Regions from separate parts of the Homo sapiens genome. Here region 1 is linked to region 2. Evidence: fine-mapped expression QTL. A gene starts in region 2. The other region holds a variant in brackets. All regions are shown on one strand. Distances are from middle to middle.

Evidence for each region. PIP is the estimated chance that this variant, and not a neighbour inherited with it, causes the effect. A credible set is the group of variants that fine-mapping cannot tell apart.
Region 1: its variant is the best candidate, but not a certain one, in a credible set for the expression of EZH2 in monocytes after interferon gamma (Fairfax 2014, PIP 0.51).

The regions. Positions count from the first base shown.
Region 1 is chr7:148,739,067-148,744,447 of GRCh38, reverse strand. The region is part of intron 2 of CUL1 (cullin 1); the gene reads right to left. Among named protein-coding and RNA genes, the nearest start is that of CUL1, 43 kb to the right of the region's middle. The variant GTAAA/A (reference allele first, on the strand shown) is at 3,000.
Region 2 is chr7:148,881,987-148,887,367 of GRCh38, reverse strand. It overlaps EZH2 (enhancer of zeste 2 polycomb repressive complex 2 subunit), which reads left to right and starts at 3,077. Exons shown (of 20, transcript NM_004456.5): 1 at 3,077-3,204. LOC124901767 (a long non-coding RNA gene) reads right to left here and starts at 2,179. Exons shown (of 2, transcript XR_007060579.1): 1 at 1,885-2,179; 2 at 1-1,011. RefSeq lists silencers at 2,444-2,673, 2,794-3,163, 3,324-3,913 and an enhancer at 3,132-3,823.

The DNA.
Region 1 (5,381 bases), 140 kb after region 2:
CTTCTCTTTCACACACACACACACACACACACACACACACACACACACACTGCAGAAACAACCAACAAATATATTAAAAAGGAACTATAAAAAAATTTCAAATAATCCTAAAGAAGGGTGGAAAGCAAGAACAAAGAAACTTTTTAAGGGGAGAAAAAAACAAAATGGTAGGCCTAAAATTAATCTATTAATAATTATAACAAATGTTAATGGGCTAAAACTACAATTAAAAGACAGAGATGGTCAGAAGGGGCAAAGCAGCAAGACCGCTCTATATGTTGACATGAGGGACACAATTTAAATATAAAAATACACATAAGTTGAAAGCAAATGGATGGAAAAAGATTATCATGCAAACATTAAGCATAGAAAGAGGTTAAAGAAGCTAATAACTATCAGGCAACAAATTACTACCAGGGATAAAAAGGGACACATTTCATAATAAATGTACTTAAAAGACATATTCGCAAATGTATTTTTGTCTAACAACAGAGTTTCAAAATATATGAAAAAAAATTTGTTTTTTGAGATGGAGTCTTGCTCTGTCACCTAGGCTGGAGTGCAGTGGTGCCATCTCGGCTCACTGAAACCTCCACCTCCCAGGTTCAAGCGATTCTCCTGCCTCAGCCTCCAGAGTAACTACAGGCGCCCACCACCATGACCGGCTAATTTTTGTATTTTTAGTAGAGACAGGGTTTCATCACGTTGGCCAGGCTGGTCTTGAACTCCTGGCATCAGGCGATCTGCCCGCCTTGGCCTCCGGCGATCTGCCCGCCTTGGCCTCCCAATGTGCTGGGATTACAGATGTGAGCCACCACACCTGGCTTAAAATATATGAAAATTTGACAGAATTAAAGGGTAAAGGAGACAATTTCACAATCATAGGATAAGATTCAACATTCCTCTCAGCAACTAGACCATAGGAAAAATATCAATCACAACTTGGATGATCTGTATGGGCAGTTGTAACATTCTACACCCAGTGGTATACTGGTAAATTGGCTCTCTGAGCAGGGAGAAAAGAAAAAAAGAAAAGCCCTGATTTGTAGCCTCCATAGATGTCTATTGTATAAGGTTCCCACCATGGCAGATGCAAGCTACCAACAGGACAATATCACACAGGGAGATGGGAGAGAGATGGGCACAATCATCTCCCGCAAGCTGATCTGATCCAGCTCCAGCACATCACCATCTACAGCCAACAGCTGCAGAACCCACATTCTTTTCAAGAGTACATGGCACATTCACCAAGATAGGCTATTTTCTGGGCCACTGAACACGTTTCAATACATTTAAAAGGACGGAAATTATACAGTGTGTTCTCTGATCAAAATGGAATTATAATTAGGAATTAGTAACAATAAGCTACCCGGGAAAATCCAATATTTCTAAACAATATCTTCCTATATAATTCAAAGGTCAAATAAAGTGTTTTGAATTAAATGGTAATGAAGATACAACATATCAAAATTTGCAGAATAAGGCTAAAAATCCTTAAAAGGAAATTTATACTTTCAAATACTTATATCAGAAAAGGTAGAAAGAGTTGGGCATGATGGCTGATGCCTGTAATCCCAGCACTTTGGGAGGCTGAGGGAGGTGGATCACTTGAGGTCAGGAGTTTGAGACTAGCCTGGCCAACATGGTCAAACACCCAGTCTCTACTAAAAATACAAAAATTAGCTGGGCGTGGTGGTGCATGTCTGTAATTCCAGCTACTCAGGAGGCTGAGGCAGGAGAATCGCTTGAACCCGGGAGGCAGAGACTGCAGTGAGCCAAGAACATGCACTGCACTCCAGCCTGGGCAACAGAGTGAGTGAGACTCCAACTCAAAAAAAAAAAAAAAAAACCAGAAAAGGTAGAAAGATTTAAGAATTATTAATTAAAATGGCAATACTCCCTGACATGGTTTGGCTGTGTCCCCACCCAAATAGCACCTTGAACTGTAATAATCCCCATCTGTCAAGGGCAAGGTCAGGTGGAGATAACCAAACCATGAAAGCAGTTTCCCCGATAGTGTTCTCGTGGTAGTGAATAAGTCTCATAGAATCTGATGGTTTTATAAATGGGAGTTTCCCTGCATAAGCTCTCTTGCCTACTGCCATGTAAGACATGACTTTGCTTCTCCTTTGCCTTCTACCATGATTGTGAGGCCTCCCCAGCCACGTGGAACTCTGAGTCCGTTAAACCTCTTTCCTTCATAAATTACCCAGTCTCGGGTATATCTTTATTAGCTGTATGAGAACAGACTAATATACTCCCCAAATTGATCCAAAGATTCAATGTAATCCCTATCAGAATCCCAGTTGGCTTCATTGTAGGAAGTTAACAAGCTGATTCCAAAATACATATAGAATTTCAAGAGACTCAAAAGAGCCAAAATAATCTACAAAAAGAACAACATTGGAGGACTCAAACATCACAATTTCTAAACTTACTACAAAATGACAGTAATAAACTCATGAATCTGTGGACCTGATTTTCAATAAGGGTGAACATCAAAACCACAATGAGATACTACTTCATTCCCACTAGGATGGCTAGAATCAAAAAGTCAGAAAATAACAAGTGTTGAGCCGGATGTGGTGGCTCATGCCCGCAATCCCAGCACTTTGGGGGGCTGAGGCAGGAGAATCACTTGAGGCCAGGAGCTCGAGACCAGCCTGGCCAACGTGATGAAACCCTGTCTCTACTACAAACACCAAAATTAGCTGGGCATGGTGATGCGCACCTGCGGTTCCAGCTACTCGGGAGGCTGAGGCAGGAGAATCACTTGAGGCCAGGAGCTCGAGACCAGCCTGGCCAACGTGATGAAACCCTGTCTCTACTACAAACACCAAAATTAGCTGGGCATGGTGATGCACACCTGCGGTTCCAGCTACTCGGGAGGCTGAGGCAGGAGAATCGCTTGAACCTAAGAGGAGGAGGTTGCAGTGAGCTGAGATCTCGCCACGCACTCCATCCTGAATTACAGCAAGACTCTGTCTCAAAATAAGTAA[GTAAA/A]TAACTAAATAAATAAATACAACACAACACAACAAGTGTTGGCCAGAATGTGGAGAAACTGGAACCCTCATACACTGCTGGTGGGAAAGTAATATAATGCAGCCACTTTGGAAAATAATTTGGCAGTTCTGCAAATGGTTAAACACACAGTTACCATCTGACCCAGAAATAACACTTGTAGGCATCTAAGAAAAATGAAAACATATGTCTACATAGAAACCTGTACACAAATATTTACAGCAGCACTATTCGTAATAGTAAAAAGTTGGAAATAACCCAACTGTCCATCACCTGATGAATGGATAAACAAAATGTGGTATATCCACAGAATGGAATCTTATTTTACCATAAAAATGAAGTACTGACATATGCTACAACATGGATGAAGTTAGAAAACATTATACTAAATGGAAGAAAGCCAGTCACAAAAGACCACATGTATTAGTCGGCTTAGGCTGCCATAACAAAATACCAGACAAGACGGCTTAAACAACAGGAATTTATTTTCTCACAGTTCTGGAGACTAGAGGTCCGAGCTCAAGGTACTGTCAGGGTTGGTTTCTGGTGAGGGCTCTCTTCCAGGGTTGCAGACGGCCACCTTCTCACTGTGTCCTCACATGGCCTTTCCTCTGTGTATGTGGAGAGAGAGCTCTCTGGTGTCTCTTCCTCTTCTTATAAGGACACCAATCCTATCAGGGTAAGGCCCCACCCTCACGATTTTATTTAACCTTAATTATTCCCCCAAATAGCCTTACCTCCAAATACCATCCAAATATACTGGGGGTTAGGGCTTCAAGATATGAATGGAGGAGAGGCACAATTAAGTCCATAACACCACATATCATATAGTTACATGTATACAAAATGTTCAGAATAGGTGAATTTATAGAGACAAAGTACATTAGTAGAAGGTAGGGGTAAGAAGGAAGTGACAACTAAAGGGCACAGGGTTTCTTTTTGAGATGATGAAAATCTTCTAAAATTGAATGTGACAGTTGAACATTATCTGTGAATATACCAGAAACTATTGAAACGTACACTTTAAATGAGTGCATTGTATGCTATGTGAATTAGATCTCAGAGCCATTAAGGCTGGGCACAATGGCTCACACCTGTAATCCCAGCTCTATGGGAGGCCGAGGTAGGTGGATTACTGGAGGTCAGGAGTTCAAGACCAGCCTGGCCAACATGGTGAAATCCTGTCTCTGTTAAAAATACAAAAAAATTAGCTAGGCGTGGTGGCGTGCGTCTGTAATCCCAGCTACTCAGGAGGCTGAGGCAGGAGAATCACTTGAACCTGCGAGGTGGAGATTGCAGTAAGCCAAGGTTGCGCCATTGCACTCCGGCCTGGGCAAAAACAGCAAAACTGTCTCAAAAAAAAAAAAAGCCATTAAAAAAATTCAATACCATTCCAATCAATCAACTTTTGGGGTAGACATTGACAAGAAGTTGACAGTCCATTGAGGAAAAGTTTTTTTCAACAAATGACACTGGAATAATTGGATATCCACACAGGGGAAATTTAACCTTAAGCCTTACTGTACACCATATACAAAAGTTAACTCCAGGTGGATCACAGGTCTAAAAGTAAATGCCCAAACCATAAAGTCTTATGAGGAAAACACAAAATATATTTGAGATCTAGGCAAAGGTTTCTTATGTCACAGAGGCAATAACTGCAAAAATAAAATAAAACCAATAAATTAGGTTTCCCCAAAGTAAACATTTGCTCACCCAAAGACACCATTAAGAAAATGATTAGCAAGCCTCAGACTTGAAGAAAATATTAGCAAAATATATCTGACAAAACACTGGTATCCTTGACATATAAAGAACTAAAACTAACAAAAAGCAAAATATCCCCAAAATGGAAAAAACAGGAGGCGAAAGACTTGGACACTTTACAAAAGATGACATACGAATGGTCAACGAGCATATAAAAAGGTGCTCAACGGACACGAAGTTTACATGGCAGCCCGAGAGGTGCCCCCGGTTTAGGGCACCTTCGCCTAAAGAACAGGATCAACTGTGCTTTGAATCCAGGCTGAGTCAGCAGAGGCAGGAGTGAAAGCAGATCTTATATAGCTCTGATGACACACAGTCTTAGCTTCACAGTATTTTTATCTCAGCTTTAAATCAACTGAACTATATGGAGAAATGTTATCAGAAATGGAATGAGCAGGCTCTTCATGTGATCAGAAGCTGCCTGAGGGAGATCTGTCCAGGCCACCAGCCCCTCCTCACACCTCACTGGTATGAGACCTGAGGAAAAAGCGCTATTGGGATAATTCAAGTGTATTATCTGGAAGGGGAGAATTCCCCATGTTCAAGGAAGGACTGTGAAACGGATGTATTCCTGAATTATGAGGTGTGCCATT
Region 2 (5,381 bases):
CTTTAATGGTTAGAGTCCAACCTACACACTCTTCCCAGTGGGAATGGCTGCTCTATAAAGTTCTTTGTACGTGTTTTTTTTTTTTCCTAACATTCACTTGGTGCCAATAATTATATTTTGTCCAATCACTTTTTTTTTTTTTTAAAGAGATAGGGTCTCACTCTGTTGCTCAGGCTGGAGCACAGTGATGTGATCATAGCTCACGGTAACCTTGGGATCCTGAGCTCAAGCAGACCCCTCACCTCAGCCTCAGGGGCAGGTGGGACCATAGGTACTTCTGTGCCACCACACTCAGTTATTTTTTAAATTTCTTGTAGAGATAGGGTCTTGCTATGTTGCCCAGGCTGGTCTCGGAGCTTCCCACCTCGACTTCTGAAAGTACTGGGGTTACAGGTGTGAACCACTAAGTCTGGCCTGGAATATCTTGATCCATCCATTCCTTGATTCTAAACGTCTAGCAATTTACATGACATTTCACACCATGTTGCAGAGTTATATACTGCTTTGATTTGCTTTATGGTAGTCTCTAATTTCGTTGATCTTCCTCTTAAAAATGCCTTGTTTTAATATTTAGTATTACAGGACTGATAAGTTCAGTAATTTGATAAGCAACTTAGGGATAAGTAGTTAATTTCTGAGGTTTAAATTGCTGGTTTTAAAAAATTGTAAATTGGTGGCCTAGACAGATGCATTTTATCTTGGAGAATGAATGTATTCGTGACTGGAAGTAATGGCAGCTATAATTCGTTACGTTATTTTACAGTCACATCTCAGCTGCATAACCTATTTACTTTTTGCAGTGTTATCACTGATTCACAAGACAATTTTGCTTTTATCTGGGCACATGATTGCTTGTTTCTCCTTATCTTTTAGCTTCCCTTTATATATACTTTCCAACATTGGAGTGATTCAGAATATATGTGAGGAATGGGATGGTGATTTAGGAAAGGCGGGAAAATTATGGGCTAAATCATCTGATGAAAAATTCTGGCCCAGCGCAGTGGCTCACGCCTGTAATCCCAGCACTTTGGGAGGCCGAGACGGGCGGATCACAAAGTCAGGAGATCGAGACCATCCTGGCTAACACGGTGAAACCCCGTCTCTACTAAAAACACAAAAAATTAGTCGGGTGTGGTGGCAGGCACCTGTGGTCCCCAGCTACTCGGGAGGCTGAGGCAGGAGAATGGTGTGAACCCGGGAGGCGGGGCTTGCAGTGAGCTGAGATGGTGCCACTGCACTCCAGCCTGGGCGACAGTGTGAGACTCCGTTTCTTAAAAAAAAAAAAAAAAAAAAAATTCTGGCTAGTTATTAAATTCATTAAAAATATTTCTTCAGATTTTTACCCCAACAGTTCATAGGTGACCTTTTTTCAGTTTCCAGTATGAACTCTCAATATGGAATCTCAGTTTACATGACAATGGTATTTTACCCCATAGATACATCCTAGTAAAAATAAATTCGGAATACTCTTAACTGCATTGCCACATGAAGCAATAGGAGAGACTGTATCCTAAGCAGAATCCCTCTAATTCCTCTGGGTTGAGGTAGCTTGACCCCCCATAACCAAGATCAATTTTTTTTTTTTTTTTGAGATGGAGTCTCGCTCTGTCGCCCAGGCTGGAGTGCAGTGGCGTGATCTCGGCTCACTGCAAGCTCCGCCTCCCGGGTTCACGCCATTCTCCTGCCTCAGCCTCCCGAGTAGCTGGGACTACAGGCGCCCGCCACCACGCCCGGCTAATTTTTTGTATTTTTAGTAGAGACGGGGTTTCACCGTTATTAGCCAGGATGGTCTCGATCTCCTGACCTTATGATCCGCCCGCCTCGGCCTCCCAAAGTGCTGGGATTACAGGCGTGAGCCACCGCGCCTTGCAAATATCCTCACACTTTGCAGAGGCGGCAAGTGAACAGTGCTCATCTTGATAAAGGATTTTTAACACTGACACGTGCTTAGAACTACGAACAGTGGAAGGGTCTGAAATGGCAGCAATGTCGCCCTTTCACAGGTTTCTAGGGCGATAAGCACTGCAAGCTCGGCCAGCCAAAGTCCAGCGGTGGGGGAAAAAACGGCCAAGGCAGCAGCAGACATAATCAAACAGGGCCCGGGTCGGCGGCGGTGGCTCACGCCTGTAATCCCAGCACTTTGGGAGGCCGAGGCGGGCGGATCACCAGAAGTCGGGAGTTCGAGACCAGCCTGACCAAGACCCGTCTCTACTAAAAATAGAAAATTAGCCGGGCGTGGTGGCGCATGCCTGTAATCCAGCTACTCGGGAGGCTGAGGCATGAGAATCGCTTGAACCCGGAAGGCGGAGGTTGCGGTGAGTCGAGATCGCGCCATTGCACTCCAGCCTGGACAACCAGAGCGAAACTCCGTCTCAGGAGAAAAAAAAAAAAGTAGTAACGGGTCCGGCGGCAGCGCGCGGGCCGGGCGAGCGTCTCCCGGCAAACGCGGCGCCACAGCTGAGCCGACCTCCGGGGCCCGCGCCCTCCCCTCCCCGGGCACCACTAGGAGCGGCCAGCCCGGGCCTCGGCTCCGCGCGCGGGGAAACGAGCGCGGCGGTTAAAACCGTTACCACCCCCGAGTTTTGAACTGGTTCAAACTTGGCTTCCAGCACCCGCCCCGCCCCTCCCCCGCCCGGGAACTCTGCGGCGCCGGTTCCCGCCAAGAGCCGCCGGCGCTTCGTCCCGCCCTTCGGCCGGTTCCCGCCACCTATCCTCCCCGCCTCCCGTCCGCGGCGGGCTCCGGGCCCCCGCGATGTCTCCCGGTCCCCGCGTGCCTGCACACCGCCTTCCTGAGAGGCGCCGTGTGTTCAGCGAAAGAACAAAGAGACGGCGGCGGCGCTTCCACACGGCCAGTGGCGTCCCTTACAGCGAACCCCGCCGCCGCCCGCGCGCGCACGCGCTGCCAGTGCCCGCCCGCCCACGAGCCCTGAGCGCACTCTGCGTGGGGCTGGCTCGGCGCCTCCGAGCCCGGCGGGCCCTGTGATTGGACGGGCGCCCGCCTCGCGTCCCGCCAATCGGGGCGGCGCTTGATTGGGCTGGGGGGGCCAAATAAAAGCGATGGCGATTGGGCTGCCGCGTTTGGCGCTCGGTCCGGTCGCGTCCGACACCCGGTGGGACTCAGAAGGCAGTGGAGCCCCGGCGGCGGCGGCGGCGGCGCGCGGGGGCGACGCGCGGGAACAACGCGAGTCGGCGCGCGGGACGAAGGTAACGCGCCGCTGCGGGCGGCCCGGCCGGCGGGGCTCCGGGAGTGCGAACCGGGCGGCGGCGGCGGCGCCAGGACCTCCCCGCCACTGCTGTGCCGGTCCCGGGTATCGCCGAGCGGGGCTCACCGGGGCGCCGCGTTTGTAGGCGTGCGGGGGGTGGAGGGTGAGGGGAGAGCCCCCCTCCCCGGAAGGAGCTGTGAGCTTCGGGCTGGCCCGCGGGACCCTGCGAGTGAGGCAGCGCACACCCCTGGAGCTGCGGGGCGGGGGGCGTGTGGGGGGCTCCTTTCCCGGTGCTTGTCCTGGCCGGGGCGCCGGGGCCGGGGTCGGGGCGTTCCGGTGCCCGGTCCAGGGTGGCAGCTCGAGCCTCAAGTCTCCTTTGTGTGGCGCGGCCGCGGCGGGAGCGCCCGGGTGGGACGGGACAGACACAAGTTGGTGGGACCCAGCCGCCGAGTCCGCACTCAGACAAAGGACGGACTGTGTCTCCGGAGGGCTCGGCGCGAGGGGAAGGGGCATGACACCCGGGCCCGCCGGCGGGCGGGAGAGGGGCGTGGGGAGGCGCGGGCCGCTGCCGGGGTGGGCAGGGCTCGGCCCTCGCCTCGCGCACGCCCCCGGTCCCGGGCGCGCCGACCCCGGGCTGGGGCCGCGGCGCTCGCGGGACGACGTTCGCGGCGGGGAACTCGGAGTAGCTTCGCCTCTGACGTTTCCCCACGACGCACCCCGAAATCCCCCTGAGCTCCGGCGGTCGCGGGCTGCCCTCGCCGCCTGGTCTGGCTTTATGCTAAGTTTGAGGGAAGAGTCGAGCTGCTCTGCTCTCTATTGATTGTGTTTCTGGAGGGCGTCCTGTTGAATTCCCACTTCATTGTGTACATCCCCTTCCGTTCCCCCCAAAAATCTGTGCCACAGGGTTACTTTTTGAAAGCGGGAGGAATCGAGAAGCACGATCTTTTGGAAAACTTGGTGAACGCCTAGTGAGTTGCCACTTTCTAAAGAATCGTAATCCTTAAACATTACAAGCTGTTTTGGCCAACTTGTGTGATACATCTGAGAATGGCGACAGGTGCTAACGAAATCAACTGTCATTCAGCCAGATTATTCCCCAAATCCCGACGGGTTGAATGAGGATGAGGTGGTAGAAGTAGGTGATCAAAATAGAATGGCTATGACAAATGTGTGTTTAGATTATACGGTTAGCAGTTTCTTATTAATTGGTCTCGTTTTCTGTGAACAATAGCTTTGGTGATTCAGAAAAGACTGCATGGAGAAATGTTTGTTGCCTAAGAAATTTAACGTGTGCTGTCCACAGTTAAACTTCCTTTATCACACAGGATCTGTAACATTTAAATTCATTTGGAAATAAAAATGTGTCTTTGCTATTTACTTAAAGGCTTGCTTTTTAGGGTTCAAGCAAGTTATTATTAGTTTAATTTTGTGGCGTTTTGATGTCATCATAAAACAGCATTTAATAAACCTTTGAAAAACACGAATGCTGTCACAATTGAATGTAGTTTATACTTTTAGGGGTTTTGGAGTTTATTTTCTATTACTCTTCATAAGCATTAGCAACTAATTCATGTTTAGGAATACTGTACAAGTGTGTAATCCTAACTTGTTTATTTGTAATTTTATTTGCAGGAAAACAAGTATTTAAGATATATTTTAATTTTCTATTCATGGTCTCTAAAGTTAGGAATAGGTAGGATTCTAGTCATAGATATAAAGCGTCTTGTTCTCTCTTTTCGGAGGTGTGTTGGGTGATGTAATATTTAAGGTTTCCCGGAAACAGGAACACTGCATCTTAAATTCTCGTTTTTGTGGAAAGTGAATATATTCCAAGAAAACAAGTTAGAAAAACATAGGCGTTCTTCTGGTTGCACTGTCCTATATGATAAAGATCTAATGTGCATCTGCTAACTTAAGGTTTCATAAAAATGGAGACAAATAAATGCAATATAAATTTATTACATATATTTTGGAGAGTGTTGACACCACTGTACGGGCATTCCAGGTGCTGGTCTAAGTGTTGAGACATTATAACAAAAAAGTAACGTTTATATTAGTTACTATTAATTCTGTATTTAAAAAATCCTATTAATAATCTTGTCCATTATGAGATAAGGTAGTTATGCAGATTTTTGGCAGAAATTCGGATATTTTAGGATACATATGTGTGTGTGTGTG